Regions from separate parts of the Homo sapiens genome. Here all the other regions are reported to be linked to region 2. Evidence: microRNA targets listed by miRTarBase, many of them from high-throughput screens and not tested one by one. Region 2 holds a microRNA gene; each other region holds the end of a gene's coding sequence.
Evidence for each region. Region 2 holds the annotated microRNA hsa-miR-6884-5p (AGAGGCUGAGAAGGUGAUGUUG, at 1,061-1,082, opposite strand). A microRNA usually pairs through its seed, bases 2 to 8, with sites in the 3' UTR of a target mRNA and lowers its output. Matches are read on the target gene's strand: a 7mer-m8 pairs with bases 2 to 8, a 7mer-A1 pairs with bases 2 to 7 and ends in A, and an 8mer does both.

Region 1 (3,000 bases), not on the chromosome of region 2:
TGCCCAGGGTGGGGGAACCATGCAGCTCAGGGCAGGGGAGGAAGAGAAGGAAAAAGCAGCAGGCCGCCCAGGGGTAGGGGTGGAGGGTGAATGGCAGGGCAAGGGGGGTACAGGGGTGGCTCCTGGGGTAAGGCACAACCCTGTCTTTGGCTCTCCTGGTGAGGAGTTTCCTCCCCTGCACCCCCTGCCCGACCCTTCTCCCCACCCCCCCACCCCCCGGACCCACACACAGTCCTGGGAGCCAGGGGGCACCTCCTGGGGTCCCTGAAACAAGTGGGCTCTGCCACCCAAGCCAATGCCACAGGGGCTCGAGGAGGGACACCCGAGGAAAAGGCAGAGAGGGGCAGGCAGGGGCCTACCCAGGACAAGGGGGTGGGGGTGAGAAGACCCCAGGCCCAGGAGCTGGCCCCCCCACCCCAACTAAGGCCTGGAAGTGGGGGAGCACCTTCCTTTCAGGGGTCTGGCTGGAGCCCCGGTCTGCCCCTCGGCCTCCGTCAGGCCCAGCCGCTTGCCAAGTGACCAGGGCATTGTGCTTTGGGGTAAACGCTGGGGTGGGGTGGCAGGCCAGGAGGCGGGGGGAGAGGAGGGGTGACTAAGGTGCTTGTGCTTTAGCTGGGGGTGTCAATATCCCCCACTCAGGCCGGCTGGGGGCTAAGGTTTCAGGCCCCGGCCAGGAAGACAGTGCCAAGACCCCAGCCAGACCCTGGCACTCATGACTGACCCCCGCAACAAGCAGATGTTAAGAGGGACCCCCAGTGGGCCGGCGGGGCTGCTGGTCCCATCGGGGGGATGGTCTCCAAATCAGATTACAAGGGTCCAGTAGGGGCTGGCCCCCACCCCATCTCCTAAAATCCCCCTGCCCCTGGAGAGACCCCTGGGAGCAGTGGGTAGGTGGGGGTTGGGGAGGCAGATGAGAGGCAGGGAGGACGAGGGCCAGAAACACAAACAAGGATGTGGATGTGGATGGTGAAATGACACCCTGCATAGGGGGATGGGGAGTTAAAAAAGAAAAAAAACTGCCTTCACATGAAAATCTAAAACAACAACAAAAAACCACCCACTCTGGGCGAGAACAAAAAGAGAGGAATGGTAAAAGAGAAAATTCTGCAAACAACTGCTAACAATGGAAGTGGACCCGGCCCTGCCCTGCCCTGCCCAGCCCCCAGGAGCTGGGCCCAGCCAACCAGCCAAGGCCTGGGACACCCTTAAACTATAGCCCTGTTGGGGAAGGTGAACAGGGGAGGGGGACCCACAGGACCCACAGGAGCCTAGGCAGCAGCTGGGACTGGAGTCCTACCATGGAAACACACACACACACTCCACACATACACACCCACACACACACATTCAGCCTGCCCCCCAGCCCCCCAACACCGCCCTGCCTTCCAAGGCCCCCCACCCCTGGGGACCGAGGGGGACAATAGACACAGCCCCATTGGTTTGAAAAATAAAAGGAATCTTATACTTCAATATTTCATTCGCTAAAAAAAGGTTTTAAAAATTATGTACAGGGGGGTGGGGGCCAGGAGCCCTGCTGTGGGGTGGGGTGGGTGTGGGGAGATGGAGGGAGGGGCAACAGCCCCCCAGTCTGCTCCCCTGGGTTCCAACCCAGGTCCTACTGCCTCTTGTATCTTCATTTGTTTGAAAGCAAAACTTCTGCACACACACACGCACACACTCTGCCAGCCCTGGAAACCTCTCATTCTATCCTCCGAGACCCTCGGTCTGCCCCCAGGAGACCCCCCCTCCTTTAGGACCTGCCTCTCTGAGGCCCCAGAGGACCAAAGGGAGCAACAGAGGCGGAAGAGGAGAAAGGGCACCAGGCACGCCACTGCCGGCCACCTGAGGTCGGTTGTGCAATTTCTCGGAGCCTGTTTCCCCAGCTATAAAATGGGTAGTCCCCACGGCCTCGCCTACCCCAGCCCCCAGGCGCAGGGATAGACGAGGGTGACAGGAAGGCGCTTTTGGAGACGTGGAAGCACTGGGAGGTGGTGGGAGGGGTCCTGAGAACCCCTGGGGCCCCCCTCAAGTCCCAAGGGGCTGCAGTGAGGGGCGGAGGCTGAAGGCTTCCGCGAGGTGGCCTAGGGCCTGGGGAGGGGCCTTCCCAAGACCCCCAGGCCAGCCCCCTCCCCTGGTGGGCCTGGTGAGTGTGGAGATGACGGCTAGGGGTTAGGTTGGGGAGCCAGAACTCCCCCACTGCACGAGTGTGTGTTAAAGAAGGCAACACGGACCTCACGCCACCTGCCCTGCGGTCCTCTCCCGGCCCAGCTCTCGGTGGGGAAAGGGGGTAGGACAGGAGGGGCAGAGGGCCGGGAACATGCAGCACCCACCGCGGGTCCTGGGGAGGGACAGACAGTAGCTCATGACCAAGATGGCAGGTGTGTGTGTGTGTTGGGAGGGGAAGTGTGTGGCCCCGCGGGAGGCTGGGCGGGTTACTGCAGGGCTTCAGCCGAGGGACCCGCCTCGCCCTCGTGGCTGGCGGTCTCGAAGCCATGCTCCACACCCATCATGTCCGGCTCGATCTTGCCCGTTTCACTGATGAAGGTGGTGTAGGCGTCATCCTCAGCCTTGAGCACCTTGACCTTGGGCATCCAGCTCTTGCGCACGACGCGGCGGGCGTTGGTGCACATGTCGGCCGCGATGGCATTCATCTCGCTCTCCTTGAAGTTGGGGGCGAAGTTCTGGCAGTAGTCTGTGGGGCAGGGTGGGTGCGGCCTTGGCACGGGGGCCAGGTGACTCCCACAAGGCCTACTCACCAGCTCCCCTACAGCATCTGCGACTCCCTCTCAAAGGGGAAACGAGTGAGGCCACGCGGCCAGGACACCACACTACGTGCACCCAACCCTACACCGGACTGAGTTCAGCCATGTGTGGGGATGTGTTGGTTTTGATGGGATGGCCCCGTGTTCTTGAAAAATTCGGATCATTTGCCAGAATTTAGTAACGGGGAGTGGTCACTTGAAAATCTAGATGCCCCCCATGACGAGTGGCTAGCACTGT
Region 2 (3,148 bases):
AAAATTAGCCGGCTGTGGGCCTGCAGTCCCAGCTACTCGGGAGGCTGAGGCGAGAGGATCACTTGAGCCCAGGAATTTGAGGTTGCAGTGAGACTCACTCTGATCTGGGCAAGGGTAAGACCTTGTCTCAACAACAACAACAACAAAAAGTATAAAGTAGTCAAATTCCTAGACACACAAAGTAAAATGGTAGTTACCAGGAGCTGGAGGGAGGGGAAAATAGGAAGCTGTTGTTCAGTGGGTATGGAGTTTCAGAGATGCAAGAAAGTTCTGGAGACCTGTTACACAACAGTGTGAATATACTTAACACTACTGAACAGTACACTTAAACATGGCTAAGATGGCAAATCTTATGTGTTTTTTACAATTAAAAAAAGCAAACAACTTATTGGTTGGGTGAATGAACTCAACGTAACTGGTCACCAGGGAAGTCCTCCAAGCCCCTGAAGAGCCAGGGCAGGAAACTGTCCTAAGAGGTAACTGAGGGTGGGGCATGGCCTGTAAAATCTACAGACAGGTTCCTAGCTCCTAGACAGTCACACAGCTTTGTTCTTTTGGGAGCTAGTTGTCTAGAACTTGAGTCTCTGCGGGCAGACCCTGTTTAGGGTCTGCATTTCTGACAACACAGCAGGTGCTGGCATATAAACGCTTCTGCCACAGAGACACAGTACATGTTTGCTGAGTCAGATGAGTGAATGCATGAATAGGAAAGTGAGTGAGTGATCAAGTAGCGTGTTTGCGAAGGTCAGAAAAGAGAGGGGTGCTTGTTATTGGATGTGCTGACTTCTCACAACACACTTGAAGGGTCTGAGAAGGGAAGGCAGGTTACCGACCTCTCATTGTAGAACTGCAGGGTGTTCTCACTAAACAGTGGCCCTGCCAGCTGGCGGATCATCTGCAGCGACTTCTCACGCTCATCCAGCCCCAGCATCCGGACGTGGGCCACAAGCCAAGCCACAGCACACACCGCCAGACTGCATACCTTCCCTTTGATGTTATCAGTGATTTTCTAGGGGAGACGGAAAGGTGATGGGCTACCATCTATCTCCCTTTCTTGAGCCAACATCACCTTCTCAGCCTCTGCGGGCAGCTAAGTGCAGCGGGTGGAGTCCCGGGCCACATTCCACACCTCTCTCCACAAGTTTGATCTTCCCAGAGCTACCTGGGCCAGAGGGAGTAGCTAAGACAACGATTACACAAAATATCAATATCAAAACATGAGCTCCTGGATTAAAGGTCTTCTTGCCCTTACGAAATATAACAAGTCATCACTGGCTGGCTCTGTGTCTCAGGGGAGCAAACGCTGCTGGGAAGGCGGGGCTACCTGGATGGACTCGAAGGCCAGGACCCCATTCTCCCAGGCATTGAGGATTTCCAAGATGGCGGCTGAGATGCTGAGACAGGCCTCATGCCACTTCATCTGCCTGCGGGTGTGCAGAGAAGTCAGCACAGGGGAGCAAGGAACGGGCTCAGGGAGCGGGTCTTGACCCTGCCCCCACCGCCACCCTTGGAGTGGGCGCCCGGGCCACTGACACTAGCTTCATCTCCGAGGAGTTGTTGAGCAGGGCCACCAGGGACTCCACTTTGGTGGAGTCGGGGCGGAAGCAGGGGTGGTCAGGGTTCAGGATCTTGCCCTCCTCAGGCATGCAGGTCTGCATCCAGGTCTCGAAGAAGGGCACCTCAGCTCCTGTGCGCGACTCGGACAGAATCACCTGGGAAAGGGGAAGGGGGGCACCAGCCGAGTGGGGAGGGCGCGGCGCCTGCCAGCGCTGGACCTGGGGCTGCACTGTTTCCCGCCAGGCTGCTGCTCCAGCCCAGCCCAAAGACTGGGGACGAACTGGTCTAAGGGAGCCAGACGGGGGCAATGCTGCCACCTAGTGGTCAATGTGAACATAGGGCTGAAGGTGCCTCTACGGACTCCAGCCCGGGTGGGCACCTGGTTTCTGAGGCCCACAGAACTAACTGGCTGAGAGGCTGCGGGGGCGCAGGCAGTGAGGTGGGGAGAGTTCCGGGTTACCTCCTTCCCTTGAGCCCCCGTCCCGGTCGCTCCCCTCTCTCACCTCTGAACCATAGGTCTGGGCCACATGGCACAGCATGAGGAAGGAGATGTCAAACAGCAGGGCCCGGACGGAGGCCGGTTTGGCTGTGGAAGGACGGGAAGGCTGAGCTCCCAGACGAGGGCAGGGGGGAGCCCGTGTCTGGGTTGACAGGGATCGGGATTTGCCTCTAGGAAGGTCAGGGACCAAGTGGCTCCTTCAAAGCTCTGAGGCTCAGAATCCTTTTCTTGAGTCTCAACTGGAACATCATCCCTTCCTTGAGACCAAAGACCCCCAGCACCCTCTCCTGGCATACCTAACCAAGTCGTAAAGGGATGAGGGGGGGAAGGAGACACAGGGATGGTCTGGGAAGAATCCTTTTCCAGCATTATCCACTTTCAAGCTCTGTGGAAGCTTCCATTGGTCATGGCTCTGAGGAGGGAGCACAGCCTCCCCCTGTTGAGCTGGGGAGCCCTCCTCCCTCCCACACTCTCCCGCCACACCCCTCCTCAGGGCCCACTGGGCCTGCGGATGCACAGGGCTGACTTACTGCTTTCTTCGCTGCCATAGGTTGTGAATTCATTCAAACTGAAAGGAATGGAGACAGGCTGCATTGACCAGGGCATGAGCTGAGCAGTAGCTGGGCGCTGGGGCTACACATGTTCAGAGAGCGATAGCTAGAGTCTGAGTTACTGGTTAAACTTAAAATGAGACACATTGCTATAGAAAAAAGGTTTTTGTGGTTTTTGTTTTTTGTTTTTTTTTTGTTTTTTTTGAGAAAGAGTCTCGCTCTGTCACCCAGGCTGGAGTGCAGTGGCACAATCTCAGCTCACTGCAACCTCCGCCTCTGTTCAAGCAATTCTTCTGCCTCAGTCTCCCAAGTAGCTGGGATTACAGGTGCCCGCCACCACACCCGGCTAATTTTTTGTATTTTTAGTAGAGACAGGGTTTCACCAAGTTGGCCAGGCCGGTCTTGAACTCCTGACCTCAGGTGATCCGCCCACCTTGGCCTCCCTAAGTGCTAGGATTACAGGCGTGAGCCACCGCACCCGGCCAGAAGGATTTTTATTGTTAGAAGATTTCCAAGGCCTAGAGAATGGCTCACTGAATGG
Region 3 (3,133 bases), not on the chromosome of region 2:
TTTGGCCCTTGGGCCACCAGTTTGAGACCCTGGTCTGCGCGAGGGTTGCAGCAGGAGAGCCCTAGTCTAGGGAGCAGGAAGCCGGGATCCCAGGAACTTCCTGGAGGATGTGGGGCAGAGGGCAGAGGGTGGGGCTGAGGCAGGCGAGGACGGTGTGCTGTGTTCTGGAGGGCAGTGGGGACAGCAGGGGAACAGGGTGACCCCAGGACCTGGAGGGCCTTGGCATGAGGAGTTTGGATTCGATCCCGAGAACCTGGAGCTTGTACGGATTGTTGGGGGGCAGCAGGGGTTACTCTGGGAGAGGGCATGGAGAGTCGGAACAGCACCCCAATGCCATCTGCCCCCAGGCCGAGAGGTGAGCCCAGCGCATCAGTATGCTCTGGCTGGAGGCATCTCCTTCCCCTTCTTCTGGCTGGCTGGTGCGGGCTCGGCCGTCTTCTGGGTGCTGGGTGAGTACAGGGTCTGAGCAGCTGGGGTGGATGGTGGGAGCCAGGTGCAGGAGTGTGGCCCTGAGCTGCCGGCTTTCCTGCAGGAGCCACCCTGGTGGTCATCGGCTCCCACGCTGCCTTCCACCAGATTGAGGCTGTGGACGGGGAGGAGCTGCAGATGGAACCCGTGTGAGGTGTCTTCTGGGACCTGCCGGCCTCCCGGGCCAGCTGCCCCACCCCTGCCCATGCCTGTCCTGCACGGCTCTGCTGCTCGGGCCCACAGCGCCGTCCCATCACAAGCCCGGGGAGGGATCCCGCCTTTGAAAATAAAGCTGTTATGGGTGTCATTCAGGAAATATTCCCCCAGCATCTTCTGTGGGTCTCTATGGGTGGAGCTGGGAATACTGCACAGAGCAGGGTTGGGGTGGAACCTGGGGTGTGGGCAAGACGATGACAAGGTAAACAGGTAAAATATTATGGGATGCCCAATGGTGGTGAGTGTTCAGGAGGAGAAAAGAGTTGAGAAGGACAGTGTGCCGGGGGTCCCCGAGACCACCCCCAGGTTTGATGGTTCTTTAGGACTCAGGAATCAGAGAGCACCCCAGGTTTGATGGTTCTCTGGGACTGGGGACTCAGTATGCAATTGCACTCACAGCTCTGATTTACTCTCATCAAAGGGTATGGAGCCAAGTCAGCCAAAAGGAAAGGTGCATGGAGTGAACTCGGGAAACCAGGCATGCACTTCCAGAGGCCACACCTAATTCCTCCAGCAGTGGATCATGGTGACGTGTGAAATGTCAGCCAGGGACACTCTGATCCTAGCCTCAGCGCCCTTGGTTTCATGGGGGCGGCCACAAGAGCACCTTCTCTCCAACATATACCAAAATGCCAGGCTCCCAGAAAGAAGGCCTGTGCCTGCACGAACAGCCTAGATAGATGCAGCAAGCCACTCTAGGCCTGCACGAACAGCCTAGATAGATGCAGCGAGCCACTCTATCAGGAAGTGATAAGACCCCCCCCCCAACACCCAAGTTCCCAGCCAAGGACCAACTGTGCACCCAGGCCTGTCTAAGGACAGCAGTCTGTTGTGGAGCCTGCCAGGTTAACTCTTTTCTGCACAGAGAAAGTTCGGGAATGAGTTGTGGGTTAAAGAGGGTGACCAGAAAAGGCCTCCCTGACGTGACATTCACCAAAGACCTAAATTGAGAGAGGGAGCAGCCCAGATCCTTTGGAGGAAGAATAATTGGGGCAGAGGAAGCCACAGGGGCATAGCCTGGGAGATGGCAGCAGCCAGGAGGCTCGAGGGCAGCCAGGAGGTGGGCGTGGCTGGGGCAGATAAGCGAGGGGGACAGTGTGGGAGGCCAGGGAGCCTTGTGGGCCACGGTGAGGGCTTTGGGTTTTACTCTGCTTGAGATGAAAGACACAGTTTGCTTTTGTGAGATGGATTTTGCTTTGTTTCCCAGGCTGGTCTCAAATTCCTGGGCTCAAGCGATTCTCCCCCTGCAGCCTCCCATAGTGCTGGGACTACTGGTGTGAGCCACTGTGTCCAGCCCAGTTTGCTTCTTGCCTTTTGTTTTTTTGAGACAGGGTCTCACTTTATGGCCCAGGCTGGAGTGCAGTGGTGTGACCACTGCTCACTGCAGCATCTACCTCTTGGGCTCAAGTGAGCCTCCCACCTCAGCCTCCTGAGCAGCTGGGACCACAGGTGCACGCCACCACACCCAGCTAATTTTTTTTAACTTTTCATTAGACAGGGTCTCACTATGTTGCCTGGCCTGGTTTCAAACTCCTGGGCTGAAGCAATCCTCCTGCCTCAGCCTCTCAAAGTTCTGGGATTACAGGCATGAGCCACCGTGCCGGGTCCAGTTTGCCTTTCATCATGAGGTGGAGACTGCCACGTGGTAGCAGTAACAAAAGAGAAACACACTTGGGAGGGAAAGTGCCAGGCAGATGAAGACAAGGGAGGTGGCCGAGAGGGCCTAAGAAGTGACTTGATTTTTTTATTTTTATTTATTTGTTTATTTTTTTGAGATGGAGTCTCTCTCTGTCGCCCACGCTGGAGAGCAATGGTGTGATTTCGGCTCACTGTAACCTCCACTTCCAAGATTCAAGCTATTCTCCTGCCTCAGCCTCCCAGGTAGCTGGGATTATAGGTGCCCACCAACACGCCTGACTAATTTTTGTATTTTTAGTTTTATTTTTTAATTTTTTTGAGATGGAGTTTCGCTCTTGTTGCCCATGCTGGAGTGCAATGGCGCGATCTCGACTCACTGCAACCTCCACCTCCCGGTTTCAAGTGATTCTCCTGCCTCAGCCTCCCGAGTAGCTGGGATTACAGGCGCCTGCCACCACGCCCGGCTGATTTTTTTGTATTTTTGGTAGAGACAGGGTTTCACTGTGTTGCCCAGGCTGGTCTCGAACTCCTGACCTCAGGTGATCCACCTGTCTTGGCCTCCCAAAGTGCTAGGATTACATGTGTGAGCCACCGTGCCCCGCCAATTACTTTAGATAGGGGTGGTCTGGGAGGGCTCTCTGAGGAGACACAAGAAGTGGGTGGAGTTTCCCAAGGAGAGGGACAGCGAGTGCCAAGGCCTCAGGGATGCAGCCTCTCCAACCTCGTGTCTCCTCAGCAGAACTCACCCACTCATCCTTGATGCAGCAGGTGCTCACCCAGAGCCCACTGATGCCCACTGTTCTGGAATTCT
Region 4 (3,146 bases), not on the chromosome of region 2:
GCGGGGAAGGTGCGGGGCGAGGCGGCCGCGGGTCCCTGGCATCCCTCTCCTTACGCCCAGGCTAAGCTGGCGGTGCTGCTGGTGACGCTGGTGGCGGCCGCGGTCTCCTACCTGCGGATGGAGCAGAAGCTGCGCCGGGGCGTGGCCCCGCGCCAGCCCCGCATCCCGCGGCCCCAGCACAAGGTGCGCGGTTACCGCTACTTGGAGGAGGACAACTCGGACGAGAGCGACGCGGAGGGCGAGCATGGGGACGGCGCGGAGGAGGAGGCGCCGCCCGCAGGGCCCAGGCCTGGCCCCGAGCCCGCTGGACTCGGCCGCCGGCCCTGCCCGTACGAACAGGCGCAGGGGGGAGACGGGCCGGAGGAGCAGTGAGGGGCCGCCTGGTCCCCGGACTCAGCCTCCCTCCTCGCCGGCCTCAGTTTACCACGTCTGAGGTCGGGGGGACCCCCTCCGAGTCCCGCGCTGTCTTCAAAGGCCCCTGTCTCCCCTCCCCCACGTTGGGGACGCCCCTCCCAGAGCCCAGGTCACCTCCGGGCTTCCGCAGCCCCCTCCAAGGCGGAGTGGAGCCTTGGGAACCCCTCGGCCAAGCACAGGGGTTCGAAAATACAGCTGAAACCCCGCGGGCCCTTAGCACGCGCCCCAGCGCCGGAGCACGGTCAGGGTCTTCTTGCGACCCGGCCCGCTCCAGATCCCCACAGCTCTCGGCCGCGGACCCGGGCCGCGTGTGAGCGCACTTTGCACCTCCTATCCCCAGGGTCCGCCGAGAGCCACGATTTTTTACAGAAAATGAGCAATAAAGAGATTTTGTACTGTCCTGACTGGGGAGTCCCAGGCCGCGGGGGACGGATGCACGGATGCCCTGGGATGCACGCACGGCTGGCCCGGCCTCTGGGCGCAGTGGTGACAGGCCCTGACCTAGGGGGACCGCGTGGTGTGGGGAGTGCCGCGCCCTACTGGGGGCGGGGCGAGGTGTCCGTAGGCCCCGCCCACCAGCCCTTCCTCCCTCCTGAGGCCCCGCCCCCCCATACCTGCCTGCCTTTGCCAGCCCCAGCCAGGAGAAGGGAGCGGCGGAGCGGCTGGCAGAGACAGAGGAGGGTGTGACGGCGTTGCTGGTCCCCCATGGGTCCAGAGGGCGAGACAGACTCCCGAGACACACCCTCCAGAGGCCTGTGTAGGCATCCTCCGCCCTCCAGCGACCACCCCCGCGTCGGACAGGGTCCACTTCCGAGCCACGGTGGGGTCACCCTGTGCCCAGTAGGGGCCTTGGAAGTGGTGGTTGGAGGCCAGGTACGCTCGGTGACTACCCTTTCCCGGCTACAGCCTCAGCTGCGATGCCCACGAGAAACAGGCTGGTGGAGGGGCAGACCCCCTACAAGGCCTGAAGGTGCCGTTCCTCCACCCGCTCCTCTTGTGGCCAGAGGAGAGGACACCCCCGCCATGAAGAGCTCTGAACGGTTGGGTGAGGACAAGTGGGGGCCGTGGGAGGGCCATGGAGCCCCCAGCTGCACCCCAGCAGGCCCGGGGCTGGCCCACACCATTCCTCACTCCCCACAGCCTCTTTACCCCTGACTTTGGCGAGACCCTCGTCCGTACCTCCAGGCTCCATGCCTGCCTCAGCATCGCTCTATGGATTCTCCCAGCCCTAAACTGGCCCCATCTCTCCTCTCTGCCCTCATGTGAGTTTGGTTCTTGAAGCCTCTAGTGGTCCCTGGGGCCAGACTCTGTGGCCTTGGACAGGGAGTCTGCCATCTGAGCCACAGGTTCCTTCTCTGTTGAGTGTGTGAGGGAACATGTTGGAGCCCTTAGTGTGGCGGCAGCAAGCGCACCAGGCCCTGTAAGAAACACAAAAGGGTGCGGCGGGAGACTTGACATTTTCTAAATCTGGGAGGGAACGCTGCCTGCCTCACGCCGACCTTCAGTGACAAGCAGACTCAGAAGCGGTCCCGAGGTGCCACCATAACCTGGGTGAAGGCCAGCACTGTGTGCTTCCAGTTCCCCCTCGGCATCTGTAGACTGAGTGTTCTCTGGAGGTGGCTGGCGACATCCTCTAGGCAGGCTCCAGCAAAACCAGTCGGAGTTGGGCAACCTGACGCTCAGATGATTCACCTCTGAATGGAGGGCAAGGTGATATTTGGAAGGGTGTGGGCCCCTGGGATGCTGGGCAAACGGGGAGCAGGTGCCTGGATAGTGGGCCTACAGCTCTTCCCAGTTCCGAGTCAATTCCAATGTCCATGGTGCCAAGGAACAGAGGCTGTGATGTTGAGCAGACTTGAAGGTGATCCAGGCACATGGAGTGGCCACTCAGGGGCTTGGCTCCTGGCTGTGCTCTTCCTATCTGGGCATTTCCCATGAGAAGGCTTCACAGGCCACCTGGCTGCTCCTGGCACACGGAGAATGCCCAGATGCTGACATGTGCCAGACAACACATATTTACACCTGATAGGCCACACACATGCAACATGCAAACACACGTGACGGGTAACACCTGTGACAGACACTACATGACAACACACATGCACACATGATGGGAAACACATATCACAGGCTGTGCGACGGGCAACACAGCGCAGGCAGTGCGACGGGCCCTGGCAGCAAGCTCAGCAGGCTGGCTCTTTTCGAGCAGGAGAAGAGCTCATTGTAAGAGATGACACTGGCGTAGGTGGCACCTCCCCTGTCTCCATCACCCCCGGATAAGGTGACTGGGTGGAGGTTCTGGACCCCTGAGTGGATAAGCAGGTTGTGTCATGGCCTCCGTGTCTGATTGCCACCCTCGCTCCCAAAGCAACTCTGTGATTTTGTCGATCTGCACTGTGGGGATTTTTCTTTTTCTTTCTCTTTTCTTTTCTTTTCTTTTTTTTTTTTTTTTTGCAACGGAGTTTCACTCTTGTTGCCCAGGCTGGAGTGCAATGGCATGATCTCAGCTCACTGCAACCTCCATCTCCTGGGTTCCAGCGATTCTCCTACCTCAGCTTCCCGAGTAGCGGGGATTACAGGCGCCCACCACCAAGCCAGGCAATTTTTTTTTTGTATTTTTAGTAGAGACGAAGTTTCACCATGTTGGCCAACCTGGTCTCAAACTCCTGACCTCAGGTGATCCACCTGCCTCGGCATCCCAAAGTGCTGGGATTATAGACGTGAGCCATCAC
Region 5 (3,148 bases), not on the chromosome of region 2:
ATAGCTCAGTCTCTCTTCTGCGGCAGCTGCCCAACATATATGCCAAGATGAGCGAATTATTTTTGTCCGAGCTACTTTATGAAACTCATTCTGCCCCACTCCAGAAATGGAAGGGATCTGTCAAACGTTCAGACTCCCCTTGCTCACAGCAGCATCAACATTGTCTCCTTGTTTCCTTCATTCATCTAACAAATGTTTACTGAGCCCCTGGTATGTGCCAGGTACTGTTCTTGGCACTAGGGAAACCATAATGGGCAAAATCTTTCATTCTAGTTGGAGGACTCAGATAATAAAGAAAACAAAATATGTATGACGTTCAATTGTGATCAGCACTATAAAGTACGTCAAAGTACAGAAGGGGAGACTGAATTTGTAGGCAGCATGGTCATGGTAGACCTCGCTGAGAAGGGGCATGAAGGTGGAGGTAGAGGGTTTAGACAAGTGGATATGTAGAGGAGAAGGCTTCTGAGCAGACTAAGCAATGCACAGAAAGGTCCCAAGGCAAGAGCAGGCCCAGCGCATTCAAGGGACAAGAAAGACGTCCGTGTGGCTGCGGTGCAGTCAGCAAATTAAGGAGGCAGGGGAGGGGCGCAGGTCGTGCACGGCTTTGCAGCTGTTGTCGGAGCTTTTCTTCTGAGTGAAATGGGAGGATTGGAGCAAAGAAGTGGTGTGGTCTGCCTTATGTTGTAAAAAGACAGCCCTGGCTGACACACTGGGACTAGACTGGGGTGGGGGCTGAGCTGGAAACAGGGAGACCTGTAGTAGTGCAGGTGAGAGATGATGGCATCGTGGACCATCTCGGTGGTAGCACTGGAGATGCTGAGGAGGGGCCACATTCTGGGCACAGTTTGATGGCCTTAGAGCCAGCAGAATTTCCTGGTGCAAAATGTGAGAGGGGAATAAAGACGGTGCCGAGGATTTCGGCCTGAGCACCTGAAGGATGCAACTGACGTTAACTGAGATGGGGAAGATGCAGGTGGGGCAGGTCCAGAGGAAAAGATCAGAACTTCGATTTTAGAAATGTGGAGGCCAGGAGCAGTGCTCATTAACTGGAATCCCAGCACTTTGGGAGGCCGAGGTGGGTGGATCACTTGAGGTCAGGAGTTTGAGACCAGGCTGGCTGACACGGTGAAACTCCGTCTCTACTAAAAATTCAAAAAATTAGCCGAGCATGGTGGTGGCACCTGTAGTCCCAGATACTCAGGAGGCTGAGGCAGGAGAATCACGTGAACCCAAGAGGTGGAGCTTGCAGTGAGCTGAGATCACGCCACTGCACTCCAGCCTGGGTGACAGAGCCAGGCTCCTTTCCATCTCAAAAAGAAAAAAAAAAAGAAAGAAATGTTGAATGTGAGGTATGTATTTCATCAACATCCAAGTGGAGAGATTAAGAATTGAAATGAATACACAGTATACATTAATAATAATAGCTGTATATAAGGCTGGGCACAGTGGCTCATGTCTGTAATCCCAGCACTTTGCGAGTCTGAGGCAGGAGGACTGCTTGAGCTCAGAAGATCGAGACCAACCTGCTCAACATGGTAAAGCCCCTTTTTTACAAAACAAAGTACAAAAATTAGCCAGCTGTGGTCCCAGCTCCTCAGGAGGCTGAGGTGGGAGGATCACTGGAGCTGGGAGGTGGAGGCTGCAGTGAGCCATGGTCGCACCACTGCACTGCAGTTTGGGTGAGAGTGAGACCCTGTCTCAATTTTAAAAAATAAATCGTTGTATCTAAGAGGTGGGATTATAGAAAAGTTTTTCTTTCTCCTCTTCCCACTTCTTACTTTGCTTGGTCTTTGGAATATTTCAAAATTTTGAAATCATAAACAAGTTTTACTTTTATTTTAAATTTATTTATTTATGAGACAGAGTCTTGCCCTTTTGCCCAGGCTGGGGTGCAGTGGTAGGATCTTGGGTCACTGCAACCTCTGCCTCCCGGGTTCAAGTGATTCTCCCGTCTCAGCCTCCTGGGTAGCTGGGATTACAGGCACCTGCCACCACACCCAGCTAATTTTCGTGTTTTTAGTAGAGACGGGGTTTCACCATGTTGGCCAGGCTAGTCTCAAACTCCTGACCTCGTGATCCACCGGCCTCGGCCTCCCAAAGTGCTGGGATTACAGGCGTGAGCCACTGAGCCTGGCCAAGTTTTACTTTTATAATAAAAAGTAAACCATATTAATTTTTTAAAAAAATAATAGCATGTAAGTTATAACATATAAGAGGAATAATTGAGGCTTGTGTCCAGAACTTGAAATTTAAATTTAGGTCAATTCCACATTCTCTGCGATCCCACTGCAGGCCAGACACTCTGCTAGTTCAGGGGATACTGAGATGAACAAAGGTGGTCCCTGCCCTGCTGCAGCGGGCTGTTCGACAGGCTCCAGGCCCGTCTCAGTAAATGCTATCATCAAAGTCCAAACCAAGACCTGGGGGAGTAGAAGGAGGAGGTAGCAGTGAGACTATACACAATCCCTGTACTATAAAAATGGCGAAAGCATGCAGATCAATAGACAGCCTCTGGGCCACACTGAGTGAATTTTAATGCAGGATGGAAGCACACAGATGGGTGATCAGGTCTCTCTTTACTGAAACACAGAACATGTGCCAAGGTGAGTCCAAGGACACCTCTGGGAACAGGTGAAGCCCCTCCCCACACATACACTCCGGTGGATGTGAGCGAGGGTCCTGTTGCCACATCTGGGGTCAGGGGCTTGGACATGCTGCCCTTCATGGGAACCTTCTGGGTACCTCTCAGCACAGTAACGCAGCTGCAGTCTGTCGGTGGGGGCCCAGGCTAGGGGCAGCACCCTCTTTTGGCATACGGGACATGCCTGGCTGCAGCTGATGTCCGTTAGCCTCTCCTGACACGCAGTAAGGAGACCTGGAAGTGAGGCGCGTGGGCGTGGAGTTCCCGGTGGAGCTGGAGAGCAAAAGAGCCAGCTGTCCTTTCAGCCCATCTGGCCCATGAGCTCGCCAGAGGCAGAGGACAGGAAGGGACACTGGGGCAGAGTGCATGCGGAGGACGGCAACCCTTCCTGGGCCTCCTACATGCTGGACACAGGCTGGTGCCTCACACACATTATGTCATCTAAACCTCACAGCAACCTTATAAAGCAGGTGTTAGGATCCTCATTTTATAAGGGATGAAAGT
Region 6 (3,000 bases), not on the chromosome of region 2:
GGTAGGCAGGTTGACCCTGGGTTCGGGAGGGACACAGGCCCTGGATGACACTGAGCTGGATGCCTAGGCAGTGTCACTCCCCACACTTTCAACCTGAGCCCCACAGCAAGCCTATAAGGTGAACATTCTCACTGTGATTTGTCAGGCTGGGTTCAGGGAGTGAAATGGCCTCCTCCAATTCCACAGGTTCAAATACCCTGCAGAGCGGCACCAGCCTCCCTCAGAAAGGACCAGACACTTGTAACATTTATGTCCTTTACCTGGGACACTGCTGTCCCATACTTGCTGTATGAAAAGAATATTTCTCAAGAGGAAGAGGAAGCCAGGCGCAGTGACTCACGCCTGTAATCCCAGCACTTTGGGAGGCTGAGCCAGGAGGATCGCTTGAGCCCAGGAGTTTGAGACCAGCCTGGGTAACATGGCAAAACCCCGTCTCTACAAAAATCAGCCAGAAAGGCATAGATAGACCCAAATCCCAGTCTTTAGCCTGGCCCAACCACCTGAGAATGGTCTCTACCCAGGATTCCTTCACTCAATTACACCCTACTCTTTGCCTCCTGCCACAGACAGAGAGAGAGAGCGCTACGCTACCACAGCCAGCTTCCTCCCAGGGCCAGGAAAGCTCCACCTTGTCCCCCTCTCACAGTTCCTAAAATTCTTCCATTCATCTATTTGGCCTCTTAAGTATTTACTCTGTTTTCAAATACATATATAACTCCAGCTTATAATACCAAGTCAAAGGTAGTCTTTCACACCATAGCATGAATTTGATTGTCAGCTATTTAAGGAAGGAGGCAGGGAAAGTGGAATGGGGGGTACTCTGAAGAGGCCAGGCCTGGGTATTGGAGGTTGGAGGACCACCCAAAAAAAGCCTGAGGGGAGAAGGAAATGTAAGCAGACACGACACATAGGTAAAACGAAGAAAGGTACAGGAGTCTCCTATTAGGAAAAAAAGGGGGAGGCTGGGTGTGATAGCTCACGCCTGTAATCTCAGCACTTTGGGAGCACAAGGAAGGTGGATCACTTGAGGTCAGGAGTTCAAGACCAGCCTGGCCAATATGGTGAAACCTGTCTCTACTAAAAATACAAAAATTAGCCAGCCGTAGTGGCACACACCTGTAATCCCAGCTACTTGGGAGGCTGGGGTGGGAGAATCGCTTGAACCCAGGAGGTCGAGGTTGTAGTGAGCCGAGATCACGCCACTGCACTCCAGCCTGGGCGACAGAGTGAGACCCTGCCATAAAAAAAAAAAAAAGTTGGGGGGGGGGTGGGGAGAGGGAAGAGGCCAGGCACTGTGGCTCACGCCTGTAATCCCAGCACTTTGGGAGGCTGAGGTGGGCGGATTACCTGAGGACAGGAGTTCGAGACCAGCCTGGCCAACATGGTGAAGCCTCGTCTCTACTAAAAATACAAAAATTAGCTGGGCGTGGTAGCAGGAACCTGTAATCCCAGCTACTCAGGAGGCTGAGGCAAGAGAATCACTTGAACCCAGGAGGCAGAGGCTTCAATAAGCCAAGACCACACCATTGCACTCCAGCGTGGGTGACAAGAGCGAAACTCCATCTCAAAAAAAAAAAAAAAAAGGGAGTGGGGGAAGAAAGGTGAATCTGGGCAAATTTGGGGCTTCACATTGACCCAGCTGGCCCATTTCTAGTGACCTTGAGTCTCTGTATTGATATGTAACTGCCTTTTGGCAGGGAGAGGGGAGGGACATTAGTTTTATTGATTTTGTCTGCAGCCACTTTCTGGGCTCTGATTCTGAGCCAGGGCCTGTCTGCAGTGCTCTATGCTAGAGGCTTGGAGACTAGAGTAACTTAGCTAGAAACCTTGGTCCAACTAGTGGAGAGGTGGGGGAGAAAACCCCCAAATCCCAAGAATCTGCGGAGACTGTGACTAGGGTTATTAAGAGGGGACAGAGGGCCAGGGGACATCTAATACATGAAATGGAATTACCAGCTGCTTGGGCGAGCAATGCCTTGGAGGGCTGGTGGGGCTACACATGTGCAGGTGGTGGGACTTTCTGGGTGTCAGCAACATCCCAGGCAAAGACCCAGAAGTGGGATGTGTAGTATGGGTTTGGAGAACAGGGAGCTAGAACCCAACATTCATGAAGGGAAGTGGGCAGGCTGGAGACAGAGATGGAACCCAGATCCAGAGGGCCACATGCCAGGCTTGGGAGACTGACCTCAGCTTAGGGCAGTGGGGAGTCATGGAAGGGTTTAAGCAGGGGAATCGCTGATGGGAACAGGACCCTCTGACTGCAGGGAGGGAGGCAGAGGATGGGTTAGAGGGGTCAGGGGGGAGATGGCAGTGACAGCACGGAGGTGACCAAGGGTGACAGCCACAGGGATGGAGATCAGGGAATGCAGAGAGTTGGCACAGGCTTCTGGCGGGGAGCAGCTATAATGGCAGGGAGGTAGGGCTCCTGAGCCTTCCTGGAGGAGCCAAGGCCACGGTCATCAGAGTAGGCTCTTCATTGGCTCAGCTTATTGAGAATCATCTTCACCCAGGGCACTCTGGGATCGGCACAGATCTCCTTATCCCTGAAGGTTAGCAACCTGGAAGAAGGAGACCCCAGAGACAATGCAGCAACATTAGCACGCAGCAAGGATGCCACACCCTCGGGAGCTTAGCATTTATGAGCCACCTACTTTATGCAGGGCTCAGCATTTATGAGTCACCTACTACATATGACATTATCTGCTAAATAGAGTGGTTCAAAATTTACAAGCCACCTGTGGTGTGAAAAGAATATTTCTCAGGAGGAAGAGGAGGCCAGGAGTTCACGCCTGTAATCCCAGCACTTTGGGAGGCCGAGGCAGGAGGATTGTTTGAGCCTAGGGGTTTAAGGCCATCCTGGGCAACATGGCAAAACCCTGTCTCTACAAAAACGTACAAGTCAGCCAGGCATGGTGACATCTGCCTGTGATCTCAGCTACTTGGGAGGCTGAGGTGGGAGGATTGCTTGGACTCAGGAGGTCAAGGCTGCAGTGAGCCCAG

Region 1: miRTarBase lists NACC1 as a target of hsa-miR-6884-5p. Seed matches in the 3' UTR shown: 7mer-m8 at 2,420-2,426 and 7mer-m8 at 2,056-2,062.
Region 3: the mRNA of RABAC1 is a reported target of hsa-miR-6884-5p. The part of its 3' UTR that is shown has no 7-base or 8-base seed match.
Region 4: the mRNA of UNC93B1 is a reported target of hsa-miR-6884-5p. Seed matches in the 3' UTR shown: 7mer-m8 at 395-401.
Region 5: miRTarBase lists MUC20 as a target of hsa-miR-6884-5p. The part of its 3' UTR that is shown has no 7-base or 8-base seed match.
Region 6: miRTarBase lists CCL22 as a target of hsa-miR-6884-5p. Seed matches in the 3' UTR shown: 7mer-m8 at 1,461-1,467, 7mer-m8 at 1,326-1,332, 7mer-m8 at 1,137-1,143, 7mer-m8 at 959-965 and 7mer-m8 at 363-369.

Annotation. Positions count from the first base shown.
Region 1 is chr19:13,137,839-13,140,838 of GRCh38, reverse strand. NACC1 (nucleus accumbens associated 1) reads right to left here. Exons shown (of 6, transcript NM_052876.4): 6 at 1-2,692. The coding sequence ends at 2,433. Among named protein-coding and RNA genes, the nearest start is that of STX10, 11 kb to the left of the region's middle. RefSeq lists an enhancer at 2,961-3,000.
Region 2 is chr17:40,025,323-40,028,470 of GRCh38, forward strand. MIR6884 (microRNA 6884) reads right to left here and starts at 1,087; the gene lies at 1,010-1,087. It overlaps MED24 (mediator complex subunit 24), which reads right to left. Exons shown (of 26, transcript NM_014815.4): 15 at 2,587-2,624; 16 at 2,061-2,143; 17 at 1,534-1,712; 18 at 1,325-1,424; 19 at 834-1,009. It overlaps SNORD124 (small nucleolar RNA, C/D box 124), which reads right to left and starts at 2,323; the gene lies at 2,220-2,323. RefSeq lists an enhancer at 1,325-2,235.
Region 3 is chr19:41,954,334-41,957,466 of GRCh38, reverse strand. RABAC1 (Rab acceptor 1) reads left to right here. Exons shown (of 5, transcript NM_006423.3): 4 at 348-449; 5 at 533-784. The coding sequence ends at 621. Among named protein-coding and RNA genes, the nearest start is that of RABAC1, 3.4 kb to the left of the region's middle.
Region 4 is chr11:67,988,772-67,991,917 of GRCh38, reverse strand. It overlaps UNC93B1 (unc-93B1 regulator of TLR signaling), which reads left to right. Exons shown (of 11, transcript NM_030930.4): 11 at 61-818. The coding sequence ends at 372. Among named protein-coding and RNA genes, the nearest start is that of UNC93B1, 14 kb to the left of the region's middle. RefSeq lists an enhancer at 81-686.
Region 5 is chr3:195,732,919-195,736,066 of GRCh38, reverse strand. MUC20 (mucin 20, cell surface associated) reads right to left here. Exons shown (of 4, transcript NM_001282506.2): 4 at 2,516-2,917. The coding sequence ends at 2,849. Among named protein-coding and RNA genes, the nearest start is that of MUC20, 14 kb to the right of the region's middle. RefSeq lists an enhancer at 447-947.
Region 6 is chr16:57,363,062-57,366,061 of GRCh38, reverse strand. It overlaps CCL22 (C-C motif chemokine ligand 22), which reads right to left. Exons shown (of 3, transcript NM_002990.5): 3 at 1-2,558. The coding sequence ends at 2,474. Among named protein-coding and RNA genes, the nearest start is that of CCL22, 5.8 kb to the right of the region's middle.